4 linked regions of the Homo sapiens genome follow. The protein of the gene in region 1 interacts with the protein of each later gene in a biochemical or structural test. Each region holds a gene or a part of one and is shown in the gene's direction. Other genes may lie near its edges.

Region 1 (4,244 bases):
TGTGCGAGTGTGTGTGCGTGCATGTGGTGTGTTTGTGTATATGAACAAGTACATATAGTATGTGTGCTTTGTGTCTGGTGTTGTGTATGAGTGTGAGGTGTGTGTGTATGCGTGCATGTGTGGTGGTTGGTGTTTGTGGTGTGTGTGCATATTTGTGGTGTGTTTGCTGTGTGTGGGTGCCATGTGCGTGTATATGTGGGTGCGTGTGTGCTACGTGTGACTGTGTGTGCATGAGTTATATTTGTGTGTGAGTATTGTGTGTGTGCATATATGTGGGTGTGTATGCCATGTGTGACTGTGTGTGCATGTGGTGTATTTATGTGTAGGAGTGCGTGTGTGTGTGTCTGTGAGGAGGGGCACATACCCTTTCTCCCAGGGTGTGGCAGCAGGCAGGTTGGGGGTGGAGTGGGCTCTGCACTTGTCCTGCCGCCCAGGGGGGCTGAAGGCTGGAGGGTGGGGCAGAGGGGACAGGCTTCGTCACCCTCCCTCCCTGCTCATTCATTAACATGATGTGTGTTTATGGAGAGCTGACTTGTACCAGGCACGGTTCTGGGAGCCAGGGACACAGGCTGGTTGCGGTGACAGGTAAACAGACAGCTACACAACCGCACGTGTGACTGAGACGCGGGCGAGCGGAAGTCCAGGGCTGGGATGGAGAAAGGGGCCTCCTGGGGACGGCCCGCGTGGGCCTTGCTGGGAAGTGCCAGGTTCGTGTGATGCCTGTCTATGTGGCTGCTGATGAGGGCGCCCGTGGGACTGCAGGCATGGGGCCGGGTTAGGTGTGAGCCCAGGTGAGCCGCTGCCACTCTCAATGAAAGGCGTCCCCAATGTCGCTGGCGTCAACTCTAAGCACCCCAGGCGGGTTTCAGTGTCACTGCGAGGCACATGCCTGCGTCCGGGAGTCATGTCCTTCCTCTGAAACTCCAGCCTGCCTGGATGTCCTGTGTCTGGTCCTCAGCTCTCCTGCCAGGCGGGGAGAGGGGAGGTCAGGAGGATTTGGGGGCTGGAGGAGAGGGTGCCAGTGCACAGCCCGCTCGGGGCCACACGCCCCCAGACACCCTGTGTGAGATGTGAGGTGTGGCTCCTTTTGTTCTGTCCCCACCGGCAGGCCAGGCAGCAGCGTTCAACGTGACCTTCCGGCGGGCCAAGGGCTACCCCATCGACCTGTACTATCTGATGGACCTCTCCTACTCCATGCTTGATGACCTCAGGAATGTCAAGAAGCTAGGTGGCGACCTGCTCCGGGCCCTCAACGAGATCACCGAGTCCGGCCGCATTGGTGAGGCCCAGGCACTGCAGGACAAAACCCAGTCCTTTCCCAGACCCTGGCCACTCCTGCCTGTGGCCCACACAACTCCTCGCACTCAGGTCCCCAGGGTAGATCTGGGGGCCCCAGATGCAGGTCCCCCCAGGGCATCCACAGGGCTGCAGTCGGCCTGCCTCCCTGCCAGGGGCCACACCCAGTCCCTGGCTCCCCAACACTTGTAGACATTGTCCAGCCCTCCACTTCCCCTTCCATCTTCTACTTCCTTTATTTATTTCTTGGTATGTTTAAAAGACAAAATTCTGACAGTGCCAATTATTAAACATTAAAGACCACAACACATATAGACGGCACAGCGACGGCAGCACTGAAGAAACCACACAGCAAGCTCTGCTGGGCCAAGGGCTCCGCTCTACACCAGCACTGCCTTGCCACAGAGCAGGTCTCCAGCACACGTGTGTGTCAGTCACAGCGCATGTCTTCCCCGCCGGCCGTGGCTTCTCACATCGGCACTCTGCCACCTTCCCTACATGCGGGGATGCACACATGCACGATAACACACACACACACAAGCAAATGCATGCTCACACAAATGCACGCTCACACACAAATGCACGCTCATGCACGTGAATGCACGCTCACACACAAATGCATGTTCACACATGCAATGCACACTCACACACAAATGCATGCTCAAACGCAAATGCACGCTCACACATGCGAATGCACACTCACACATGAATGTATCCTCACATGCACAAATGGATGCTCACACACGCGAATGCATGCTCACACACAAAAGCACACCCAAACTCAAATGCACACACACGTGAATGCATGCTCACACACGTGAATGTATGCTCACACACATGCTCAAACACACAAATGCATGCTCTCACATGTGAATGTATGCTCACACATGAATGTATGCTCACACGCAAATGCATGCTCACACACGCGAATGTATGCTCACATGCACAAATGCACGCTCACACACGTGAATGCACGCTCACACACAAATGCATGCTCACACACATGAATGCATGCTCACACTTGCATGTGCACACACATGCACACACAGTCATACACACGTGCAAGACCACATGTGCACACAGACATGCTCACATGCACACTCATGATCACCCATGTATGTCTTCACTCACATGTATAAATCGTACATAAACACACATGCCCACATATGTACCTGGTCACCTACGTGAACTAGGTGTGTCCATACCTGAACATGCTCACATGCATACAGGAATACGTGCACACACAGTTGTGCTACGCATGTACACACTCATGTTTACACATGCAGATGGCTGCACACACAGATACACATACGCACCTGTTCACATGCCCACATGTATACCTGGTCACACACATACATGCAGGAACACACATGCATACACTTATGCTCATCCATGTACATTGCACACTCCCAGGTTCACACACACGCCCACATACGTTCACATGTGTGCTTGCACAACGCACATGCTCACACACACACTCCACATGTGCCATCTTGCTTTCTCCACCTCCCTGCTAGGAGAGAGGAAACAGGCTTGCCCTCGTGCCCCTTTGAAGCTGGCCCTCCCACCTGGGCCCAGCCTGCCACCTCCCCAGCCCCTCCATGTGCCCTGCAGGCTTCGGGTCCTTCGTGGACAAGACCGTGCTGCCGTTCGTGAACACGCACCCTGATAAGCTGCGAAACCCATGCCCCAACAAGGAGAAAGAGTGCCAGCCCCCGTTTGCCTTCAGGCACGTGCTGAAGCTGACCAACAACTCCAACCAGTTTCAGACCGAGGTCGGGAAGCAGCTGATTTCCGGAAACCTGGATGCACCCGAGGGTGGGCTGGACGCCATGATGCAGGTCGCCGCCTGCCCGGTGAGGCCGCTGCCCCTGCTTGGGTCCCCACGTTCCCCCAGTGTGGGGGGCTCTGTCAGGCGCTGTGTGGGGGCAGGGGGGTACCCTGGCCGGCAGGTCGTCTGAGGGACTCCAGCCTGGGCCTGGGGAGAGCAGCTCCTCACCCTGCTGCTGCCCATGCAGGAAAGGGCAGGAGGAAGGGAGGGTGACCACGAGGGCTCGAAAATCATGCGCTGATTTCATTGTTTGCTGTGAGTTAAATTTGTGACCCTGGGCAAACCTTATGAAGCCTAAACATTTTGCGAGCGGCCAAGGGTGGAACAGGGCCGCTAGGCAGCAGGTCCCGTGGTTCCTGGGGTGGAACCACCCTCCTCCCTCCAGGCCGGGTGGGCGCTGGCTGCCCAGTGTGTGTCGCTCTCCACGTCCCGCCCACCCAGTTTGTGACTGTCAGCCTAACAGAGCAGCCACAGTCCCTGGGCCATGTTGAGGCCACATGCACTGTCCTCCCCTCACAACCCACCTTAGCTCTCCTGCTTCCCTGCAGTCCCAGCGCAGACACACTGCTCACGAGTGTGAGGTCACAGCCTAGGACACGCACGGCCCCCACATGCGCCTGCCAGGGGCTGTCAATGGTGGACTCAAGGCCTGCTGGGCCCCTCAGGCTCGTTTTCCTCCATGTTGCACTCGTTCTGCGTGTGGCCCACACGTCTGCGAGGGTTTTTCCCCTTGGGGATGGTTTCCTGAGGGTTTGTTCCCAGCTCTGAAGTGCAGGGACCGCAGCCGTGTCTCTCTCCTTGCCTTTCCACACGTGCCTCCACTCCCTGCGCCTCACATGTGCACGGGGTGTTTGAGGGCCGTTGTCTCCTCCTGGGCGTGGCGTCTGGGGGAACACAGCTGGGTCCCTGAGACCCAGGGGAAAGGGGGACCCACACCAGCCTCCGGGCCACCCCACCAGCTCTGCATCGTCTCCTCTGCTCCAGAGGGCCGGGTCTGGGAAACTGAGGCAGGTAACCCTGCCCCCCACGCCTTCTTCTCAGGAGGAAATCGGCTGGCGCAACGTCACGCGGCTGCTGGTGTTTGCCACTGATGACGGCTTCCATTTCGCGGGCGACG
Region 2 (3,500 bases), on another chromosome or scaffold:
TATATATATATGTGCAGAGGTCACTGGCAGAGCAGGGGCATTTCAGGGCACCTCTGGGTCAGCGGTCCTGCAGCTCTCCCATGCCATCTGAGTACCAGGGGCTCCCTTTTGCACCACTGGCCTTCTCGGTGACCATCTGGGCAACCAGTGTGAATTGAACACTTACTTGGTGCTGGCCACTGGGTTTTTGTCCCTGAGCCTGAGATGCCACCCTGCCCTGGCCGGACGGAGGAGGGCTGCTCTGGCTTCTGGGCCAGGCCCTCCTCCCCACTTCCACCCCAGCTGGCCAGCCACACCCTCCCCATGGCCTGGGGAACCACCACCCTTGGGCTGCAGGTCAGACGTGACCCTACAGGGCACCTTGTCCATCCAGCCCCCATTCCCCACCCCTCTGTGCAGTGCCCTCCAGGGGCCTCCAGGTTCTGTTTATGTCATTCCAAAGGGAGAGGAAGCTCATTACCACACAGCAGCCCTTCCAGCTCTGCTCTAAGGGCCCAAACACTGGCCTGCCCTTAGCTGTGGCTCTGGTGCCTCCTGCTTCCATAGGCCCTGCCTTCCTGGGTCCTGAAGGCTCAAGCTCTGGCTGCAGAAGGAGGCAGCCCAGATCAAACCCAGTTTGGATGCAGCCTGGGCCCACAGAAGCCTCTCTGATGAGGTCGGGGGGCTGAGCCTATGGCAGTGCAAACCGAGTGTTCATTCTTAGGGTGTTTGGGAAGCCCCCCTTCATCTCCCACCTGGCACCCTGACTGGGGAACTGGCCCTTTAAAGCCAACCAAGGGCTGGCTTTTGGGGGGAAACATCCTAGATTTCTGCCATCTACTTACAAGCCTGGGCCAGGGAGGGGGGGCCACTCAGCCCCCGACAGGGGCATTGGAAGGGCAGGTGGAGCCAGTGGCATTGATTGCAGTAACCTGATCCCGTGAGGGAGGCGGCCACAGCGGCAGCAGCGCAAGGGCCAGGCCAGCCGGGAGGAAGGTGCCTGCAGCTGAGGGCTGCGCTGGGAAGAGCTGGGGCTGGGACCCGGGTCGGCAGCTGCAGCCTCCTCTCCTGGCCTGTCTATTTTTAATGAGCTCCCCAGGCTTCTGCAGCAGGCAGGACGCAGAAAGACAGGCCCAAGCGGTGGAGGCCAGAGGCCCCCAGCCCTGCCTTGAGCCCTGGCCCCCCCACCCTTCCGGGCATGAGAGGGCAGCCCTGGGGCCCCGCAGCCCCCCGGCCGGGCAGGGCTCTCCATGCAGCTGGTGCTGAAGATGGATTCGAGCCCAGACAATGACAGCTGGTTGGAGGATCAATGGGAGCGCTGGTAGGGGCTACCGGGGCTGGCGGGGGTGGAGACCGAGTTGGGGTGAGCTCCATCGAGCTCAGGGTCTCTGATCTGAATGAGGCGAGTGGCAGGGAGTCTGGGCCTCCTAGGTTCCCCTGGGGGCTAAGCCACCATCTCTCCTGGGTGACCTTGAACTAGTGGGTTTCCCTTGCTCTGTGCCTCAATTTCTTGGACTTATTTGGGAAAAGGCTCATACATTCTCCCCAACTTCCTAAATGTTCTACCCCCCCACCACCCCCCCAGCAAGCCAGGCAGAGTGCCCAGGACCTAGAGGTGAGCAAGAGACAGGCTGCCTTGCAGTGGCTGGCCCAGCCCTGCATTCTGAGGTGGGGACTCAGGGCTGGCCTAGGGAGAGGGGGGTTCTAGTGGAGCTGGTTAGTATTCTGGTGCCCTGGTGCTCTGAGCTGTCTCCCAAGGTTGTAACACCTCTGGTCCCACCTGGGGCTTCTCCTGACCCCATCTGTGCAGCCTCCTGTTCAGGGTCCTTACACTGGATAAGGAGAAGATGTTGTGGTTGAAGAGATGAGACCACCAAGTGCACAGCATGAGGCTGGAGTCCTTTCTGGAATAGGCTGAAACTACCCACACTGACACCAGATTTTCCTTCGCTTGTTCCCTGGGCTCAAGGGGCATGAGTCTTCCTGAGCTGGGGCGTGGGGCACTCCTCTGAGGCTGCTGCCGGCGCCTCGGGTCTTGCTACTGCAGGGATTGCACTGGGAGCTCCCCTACTCCAGGCTGCTCTTCTCAAGTCCACATTCTCCATGGTGAACTGGCCTTGGCACCTGCCTTGACCCTGGGAGGAGGCTCTGACCAGTTGGGCCTTCTAAGCACTGCCTGCTGGTTGGCAACAGAATGACAGCTTCCAGGGAGGAGCCAGAGTGACCTGGAGCCTCCTCTTCCACTGCCACCCTAGGAGGACTGCCTTTTGGCACAAGCCCCTCGCTCTTTCCCTGCCTGCTGACCACCCCCTGCATTGATACAGATGAACCCCAAATCCTGTCCTCTGGGGGCTGTGTTTGGCCTTCAAGAGGCTGCACCCTGGAAGAGGTAACAGGGAGATGTGAGCAGGCATAGTGCCCCTGAGTTGTAACTTTGGCTTCCTGTCCCCACCAGGCTCACCCATGACATCAGCCTGGAGGAGTTTGAGGATGAAGACCTCTCGGAGATCACTGATGAGTGTGGCATCAGCTTACAGTGCAAAGACACCCTGTCCTTACGGGTAAGGGCAAGCTCCCAGGAGCTCCTGAGTGGGGTGGCAGGAAGGCTAGGGACAGGGGTAAGGGTATCCCCATAGTGACAAAGGGGGTTTCAGGTCTGTGCTGGCACCCTCATGAAATGAAATGATGTGCAAGAAACATAGGTATACTGCTTGGCACGTCTTGAGTGTACAATCAGAATTTCATTTGGTATTATTATTATTATTACTGCTGTCGGGGACTAAGACAGGAAGTAGCTCCTTCAACTGCCCACGAGATGGGAGAGGCCAGGAAGTCTTGAGACCTAGGGCAGTAACAATTAGGACCAGACTTAAGGGAGACTCAGGGCTACCCCTGAATCCTTTTGGGAGCAGCCCTGGCAGAGGGCCTGAGGCAGACAGGGTGGAGTCTGGTGGAATCTGCAGTGCTTTAGGGCAGGAAGAAACAGCCAAGGCACCCCTGGAATAGCTCCTGTGGCTGCTGGCTGCTATTACACCAGACAGATGGCACCACGCGGCCTCCCAGACCCTCTCTGGCCTATAGTCCTAAAGGCCCCCACTGAGGGGTTTGCCCAGCATTGCTGCTGGTTTGGGCCCCTTGGCTTTGTCATAGGGAAGATGGCTCTCTCCTGTCCCTAAAGATCTGAATGCTGCCAGGAGGTCCCCAGCACCTGGGTAACTGGGGTCAGATGGGGATCCCAACTATGTCTTTTCAGAACAGGAAGAAGGGGCCGGCTTGCCAGGAAATGGAGGACAGAGCACAGGGCTAGGTTTTAGAGCCCAGAGCTCCTCTGAGCCCCCAAGAGGGCGGGTAGCCAGATACGGTGTCAGGAGAGTGGTTACCATAGGAGCGTGAGGTGTGCCTTGGGGAGGGAGTACCTGTCTCTGTGTTGACCTCCTGCTACTCCCAGAGACTCAGTAAGCTCTGCAAGAGGAAACCAAGGGGTGAGGATAATCCCCTAGTCCCCAGTACCCCAACCTTCC
Region 3 (3,500 bases), on another chromosome or scaffold:
CTCTTGCAAAAGTCAGCTCTGCCTAGTTCGTTTTCTCCCATCCGTTTGTTGGCTCACCAGTCTTACTCTCTGTGACTTTGGGCTTTCTCTTAATTAAAATTCTCTCCTTTCTTGGCTTTTGTGACATCACTTCTACAGGTTTTTTTGGTTTTGTTTTTGTTTCTTTTTAAAGAGTTGGAGTCTCGCAATGTTTCTGATGCTGGTCTCAAACTCCTGGCCTCAAGCACTGCTCCTGCCTCAGCCTCCCAAAGTGCTGGGCTTACAGGTGTGAGCTACCGTGCCCAGCCACAGATTTATTTCTGATGCTTCTCAGTCTTCTGTTTGCCCATCTCTTTAATTCTGCATTTCCCAAGATGTTATCTTTGTACATTTAACATTCTTAAACAAGTCAGATAGTGTCTCCTTTCCTTTCATGAAGTAACACCATTGCTTTTTCTTATTTCAATTTATTCTCTTTTCTGCATTACTTCCTCTCAGTTTATTTACATCACCACTCTGTACAACAAGTGTGATTCCCATGTCTGTTCTTAGCCACTACTCCTCTTGAATATCATACAGTCACTTCAGGCTTGGATAAATTCTGAGCCTCAGTGTATTCATATGTAAAATGGGGATGATCATAATATTGCCATTTTAGGGGGATTTTGAGGATTAAATGAGATGTGTAATTAAGCCTTCAATAAATGTTAGATGAGGTAATAATTAAGATCTCACAATTAAGTATTCTTAGTATCCTTTCAAAGAAGTTACCTGTTTACATCATCCATTGACTCTCCTACGTTCTAGAAGTCTTAGTACAAAATCAACATGGAGACTTGTTTACAACCGTATTAATAAATTAGTGTTTGTTTCTGTTTCTACGTGGTATCTTTTTCTTCAGGTTTTGAAAGTTGTAGTAATGGTGTAATATCAAATAAAGCACATCAATCATATTGCCATAGTAATAAACACCAGTCATCCAACTTGAATGTACCAGAACTAAACAGTATAAATATGTCAAGATCACAGCAAGTTAATAACTTCACCAGGTAAGTAATTTCACTGACTTTTGCACTAATATAAGCAACCTAGTTATAGGTGTAATCGTTGTAATAATTTTGAAAGAACTTGAATTATGTGACCCACAGAGGGGCTCTGGGAGTTCTTAAGCCCCCAGAGAATAAAAGCGTAGGGAGTCAGTTCCCCAAAGCTTTTTAGTCTCCTATTATGCACATGAGCTCTTTCCTTAGTTTCTTCCTCTTCTCTACTACCTTCTTCCCTCTAGTAAAGTTATAAGGACAAATTCAGGGCTTCATGCATTGTCTTCCTGCCAGCCACAGAGCTATACAAATGATCACATAAATGCCATTTGTTATGTTTTCACAGTGGTTAAGACACAGTAGCATATTTAACCTTGAACGGTGACATAAGATAAATTTACAACTGATTTTTTCTCTGTGTGTGAGTTTTTTTTGGTGTAAATGTGTAGAATGTTTTCCAAGTTCAAAACTAACTTTACAAATAATCTTTTTTGAAAGCCTGCCTTTAAGTAGCTTGCATATAGCAGATGGTTAAGTCATTTAGTAAACATTGGTGTGAGGATGGTTTTGAGGATTTGTTGGGCACCAAACATTCTGCTAGGTAGGGTGTCTCACTTTGAAGAGGTTTGAAAGATGATATCTCAGTCAGTGTACTATGACCCTTGATATACTCAGGTTTAATATTTATGAAACCTAAAAGTTCATGAAGTGACATTATTTGAATTAAATACTACTGTGCAGTAGCAAATTATTGTGAATTCACCCTGCCCAAATCATCCAGGACTGGGTCAATTTAATATTGGTTTGGTCTATAACAAACCAGTTGGTTACATTGCATTTTCAGGAAATGGTCATCAGTGCCACATTTTCTTATTAAAGGAGAGAGAGCCTAACTTTTAGCATGGAATCTTAATGGAAATATGATTTTGCAGAAAGGATTGTATGTAAAAAAAAATCTGTATTTGAAAATTGGGAGATTAATCTCAATTTCTGGGTTGTCTGTCACACGTGACAAAAATTTACTGAAGTAATAGTGTGTGTGATTGATATAAGTTGTAATGGAGAACCACAAAAGTGTATGAGAAGAGCAGAAAAATCGTCTTTCACAGCAGAGGTGATATATTGGAAAATATAAAATCAAAATATTATAGTTTAAAAATAGATGGAAATGTAAAAAGTTAAGTACTTCATCATGCTTTATACTAAATGCATTGGTACTTTATCATTGATCAAGGCTCTTGCCAATGTTTGAGGGTAAGATTGCAGTCAGTTTGTGAGTTTTTCTCTTGAATACTATCCCTACAGCAGGAAGTTGCTAAACAGATCTATTATTACCTGAGTTCAGGGAAGCAAGCTTAACGGAAGGGTCTGATGACACAACATCCTCCTTTGTCTGCAGTATAAAAGGGAAAGAAAGTCAACTTTGAACTGCCTTAAGCTATAAGTTATTTTGTAGTTGGTAATGGCTTTCCTAACTGTGAAGTAGGCAAAGATGGTATTAACTATTTAAACCATTTTACAGATGTAGAGCGGGATATCAGAAAAGTAAATGACTTTTTTTTCTTAAGGTCAATTATTAGTAGCTAGTAAGTTGCAGAGCTGAGGCTGCGTTTCAGGATTTGACTTGCAAACTTGTGCTTTTTCCCTGATACCGCCCACCATCTGAAATGCTCTTCTTCCTACCCTCCCTCACCTCCAGTATAACTTCTGTCCAGGCTGAGAAAATTCAAGTTCAGATGTCAGTTCTTCCAGGATGTTTTCCTTGATTTACATCCCATCAAATATGTCATGTTTTGTGATTAACTTCCATCATAGTACTGATCATAATTACTCTGTAATATAATAACTTAATTAGCTTTTTATAGGTTGTTTGCTACAGGAAGGCAGAGGCTGTTTCATAATATCCTTAGCACCTAACAGGGATCATACCTCAGAGGCTCTTAAATGTGTGTTAAATGAACGAGTTCCTTCCAAATACTAAACTGAGTTATCAAAAAAAAAAAAAAAGTTTAGTATTTTTTAAAAAGCCACTGAAAGCTGTGATGGTAAGGATTTTCTTATTCTTAAAGTTTGGTTTTTCTTACCAATTTTCGAAGTTTGTTAAGATTATAAACAAGCTTTCCTGGTTGAGTAAGTCTGCTCTGGAGTCGTAGGGCCATATCCCCCTTTTCCCTAGATCTCTTGTTTTTTTTTTTTTTACCTTAACAATTTTACTAACAGGAGTGTATGCATGCACACACACACCCCCAAGGTGTTAGAATTTGTTACCTCTGGTGGTATTACGCATAGTGGTTTTTGCTCATCTGTGTTTTTTTTTCTACAATTGAATATATATTGCTTTTGTAATGAGAAATGTCATTTTTATCTAAGCATTACCTAAAATTTCATCGAGTGTTTACTTCTAGATTGTATAATTATTACCTAGGCTTCCATAGGATAAATCCTAAAGATTAGATATTTATTGTTGCTTATAAGAGTGCG
Region 4 (3,500 bases), on another chromosome or scaffold:
CTATTACATTCAGGCGGGTGCTGGATGCAAACTGTAGGATGGGGCTCAACTAGTAAGCTTGTCGAACAGATAGGGTAATTAATAGTTGTAACTTTTTTTTTTTTTTTTTTTGAGACAGTCTCACTTTGTCGCCCATGCTGGAGTGCAGTGGCACAATCTCAGCTCACTGCAACCTCTGCCTCCCGGGTTCAAGCAATTCTCCTGCCTCAGCCTCTCGCGTAGCTGAGACTACAAGCACCCACCACCAAGCCTAGCTAATTTTTGTATTTTTAGTAGAACAGGGTTTCACCATGTTGGCCAGGCTGGCGTTGAACTCCTGACCTCATGATCCACCCGCCTCAGCCTCCCAAAGTGCTAGGATTACAGGTGTGAGCCACCACACCCGGCCCTAGTTGTAACTTTTTTTTTTTTTTTTTTTTGAGACGGAGTCTTGCTCTGTCGCCCAGGCTGGCGCCATCTCAGCTCACTGCAAGCTCCGCCTCCCGGGTTCACGCCATTCTCCCGCCTCAGCCTCCCGAGTAGCTGGGACTACAGGCGCCCGCTATCACGCCTGGCTAATTTTTTTGTATTTTTAGTAGACACGGGGTTTTACTGTGTTAGCCAGAATGGTCTCAATCTCCTGACGTCGTGATCCGCTCGCCTCAGCCTCCCAAAGTGCTGGGATTACAGGCGTGAGCCACTGTGCCCGGCCTGTAACTTTTTTTAAAATCCCGAATCATTTTTTTAAAATTGTGGAGCCTGCCAGGTGCAGTGGTTCACGCCTGTAATCCCAACACTTTGGGAGGCTGAGGCGGGCGGATCACCTGAGGTCCGGAGTTCCAGACCAGCCTGACCAACATGGAGAAATCCCATCTCTACTAAAAAAAAATTGTGGAACCTGAGACTTAACATAGCTAACTTCTTACACCTTAAAATGTTATTCATTTATCTTTTTTTTTTTTATTTTTTGAGATGGAGTCTTGCTCTGTTGCCCAGGCTGGAGTGCAGTGGCATGATCTAGGCTCACTGCAAGCTCCGCCTCCCAGGTTCAAGCAATTCTCCTTCCTCAGCCTCCTGAGTAGCTGGGATTGTGGACGTGCACCACTACACCCGGCTAATTTTTGTATTTTTAGTAGAGATGGGGTTTCACCATTTTGGTCAGGCTGGTCTTGAACTCCTGACTTCAAGCGATCCGCCCACCTCAGCCTCCCAAAGTGCTGGGATTACAGGTGTGAACCACCGTGCCTGGCCTCATTTATTTATCTTATTTTGCGATGTTCAAAGTCCAGAAGGCAAAAGGGCAGGTATATAATGAAGTCTCCTTCCCATTCTGTTTGCTAGCCATCTATTTCTTCTCTACAAAGGAAACTATGTTAGTTATTTCTCGTGTATCCTTCCAAAAACTTTTTATGGACATAAAAGCAAATACGAATATATATTTTCTCATTTTTTACACAAATTGTAATAATCTATGCATACTCTTATGTAGCTTGCTTTTTGTATTTAACATATCTTGGAGATGATTCTGTAGCAGTACTCTACAGGTACGGAGTATTCTATAATATGAGTATGCGATGGTTTTAGAAGTCTGCATGGGATATTTACATTGTTTCCTTCAAGAATAACATGGTATGTGGATTATTTCAAACACATGTTCTAGTTTCATATGAAGATGTGCTTTTTAATGTTTTAAAAAAATTGTGATTGAGGTACAACATATAGACAGTAAAATACTAAAGTGTATAGCTCAGTGAGTTTGTACGCATGTCTACACTGCGTCTCCATTAGCTAGATAACTGTTCTAAGGGCTTGCTTTCTTGAGTTGCACAATTCCCTGTATTTACCTAAAGGATTAATTAAAGGAACCACTTCTACTTGTATCACACCATGCTGGTCTCTTTCTATTCCACTAGTTCAGTAAAGAAAGAGGACACACTCTTTTTCCCTCTAATCAGATGGGTAGGGATAGGTTAAGAGATAAGTGAGTCTTGTCTGTAGAGTTCTCTATTCTCAATCATCTATAGCATGCTTGGCCTTATAGCTGTTTAGCTTTTTATAAAGAAATGCTCCCCCAGGTGAGGTGGCTCACGCCTGTAATCCTAGCACATTCGGAGGCCAAGGTGGACGGATCACTTGAGGTCAGGAGTTCGAGACCAGCCTGGCTAATGTGGTGAAACCCTGTCTCTACTAAAAATACAAAAATTAGCTGGGTGTGGTGGTGCACGCCTGTAATCCCAGCTACTCGGGAGGCTAATGCAGGAGAATCACTTGAACCCGGGAGGTGGAGGTTGCAGTGAGCTGAGATGACGCCACTGCACTCCAGCCTGTGTGACAGAGTGAGACTCCATTTCAAAAAAAAAAAAAAAGGTAATGCTGTTTTTTTCTGAATGGCTAAGAAAATGGAGTACAGGTTGACTATTCCTAATCTGAAAATTTGAAACCCAATCCAAAAATTTGAAACCCAAAATGCTCCAAAATCTGAAATCTTTAGAATGCCAACTTGGCACTCAAAGTGCTCATTGGAGCAATTGGATTTCAGGTTTTCAGATTAGGGATGCTTAACTGGTATGTATTCTGCAAATATTCCAAAATTTGAAACACTTGTGGTCCTAAGCATTTCAGATAGCAGATACATGAAATGTGTTGACATTTAGATAATTTTAGTCAATAAAATGTAAAACACAATTACATTATTTGGAAATTTCTGGAATCAATGAATTTTCTCCTTCTGCTAATACCTGCCTAAGTAAAATTAAAGTGATGATTTAATATCAATTTGTTCACAGCTTTGTTTGCTAGCAAAATGCTTTAAGCCTGCCCTTCCATATCTTGACGTGGATATGATGGATATCTGTAAAGAGAATGGAGCCTATGATGCAAAACACTTTTTATGTTACTATTATTATGGAGGGATGATCTATACTGGGCTGAAGAACTTTGAAAGAGCTCTCTACTTTTATGAACAGGTAATCTCTCTAAAAATTAGCTGAGGTTGTTCTGAACTTGTGTGATCAAAAAAGTGCTCCCATAGGTTTGTGGCTAGAGTGGTCTGATCCCAGGGCCTCCGTTTCAGGTGTTGGTCCTTTCAGAGACTACTTCTCTGTGATCATGTAAATAGTGGTAACCTGATCCCTAAGTTGAGGAGCAGCGCCAGTGCATAGAAGAGCACTTGTCTGGGGGTTCTAATCTAGGCTTGCACTTATACCTTATCTGATTTGGAATAAGTTATGACATCTCTTGACCTTTATAGCTTCCTTTGCATATAAGGAAGAGATTGAACTGAGTGATCTTGGTTGTGTCTTATTCTAAAACCATGTGTGGTATTTTGTTAAGTTTTATTTAATCAGTGAAACATTCTCTTGATTCAAAATTTAAAGGGTAGAAAGGAGTACACAGTAAAAGTCCCTCCCACCCTTTCTGTGTCTGTGTAATGAAACATAGTACACAATTTGGTAGAATATTCTGGAGGTTTACTCAGACTCTGAAAAAGAGATACACAATATTGATTAATAAACCACTTT

Evidence for each region. The genes of interacting proteins can lie anywhere in the genome.
Region 2: the proteins of ITGB2 (region 1) and MAPK8IP1 form a complex in vitro, tested with the Homo sapiens proteins (one study listed by IntAct).
Region 3: the proteins of ITGB2 (region 1) and RANBP9 form a complex in vitro, tested with the Homo sapiens proteins (one study listed by BioGRID and IntAct).
Region 4: the proteins of ITGB2 (region 1) and COPS3 form a complex in vitro, tested with the Homo sapiens proteins (one study listed by IntAct).

What each region holds. Positions count from the first base shown.
Region 1 is NC_000021.9:44,900,400-44,904,643, reverse strand, and holds part of ITGB2 (integrin beta-2 isoform 1 precursor), read left to right. Parts: intron 1-1,108; coding exon 1,109-1,279; intron 1,280-2,910; coding exon 2,911-3,152; intron 3,153-4,168; coding exon 4,169-4,244.
Region 2 is NC_000011.10:45,895,651-45,899,150, forward strand, and holds part of MAPK8IP1 (C-Jun-amino-terminal kinase-interacting protein 1), read left to right. Parts: intron 1-2,434; coding exon 2,435-2,540; intron 2,541-2,745; exon of another isoform or gene 2,746-2,821; intron 2,822-3,395; exon of another isoform or gene 3,396-3,441; intron 3,442-3,500. UniProt on the Homo sapiens protein: The JNK-interacting protein (JIP) group of scaffold proteins selectively mediates JNK signaling by aggregating specific components of the MAPK cascade to form a functional JNK signaling module. Required for JNK activation in response to excitotoxic stress.
Region 3 is NC_000006.12:13,635,336-13,638,835, reverse strand, and holds part of RANBP9 (ran-binding protein 9), read left to right. Parts: intron 1-880; coding exon 881-1,028; intron 1,029-3,500. UniProt on the Homo sapiens protein: May act as scaffolding protein, and as adapter protein to couple membrane receptors to intracellular signaling pathways. Acts as a mediator of cell spreading and actin cytoskeleton rearrangement.
Region 4 is NC_000017.11:17,264,247-17,267,746, reverse strand, and holds part of COPS3 (COP9 signalosome complex subunit 3), read left to right. Parts: intron 1-2,765; coding exon 2,766-2,945; intron 2,946-3,500. UniProt on the Homo sapiens protein: Component of the COP9 signalosome complex (CSN), a complex involved in various cellular and developmental processes.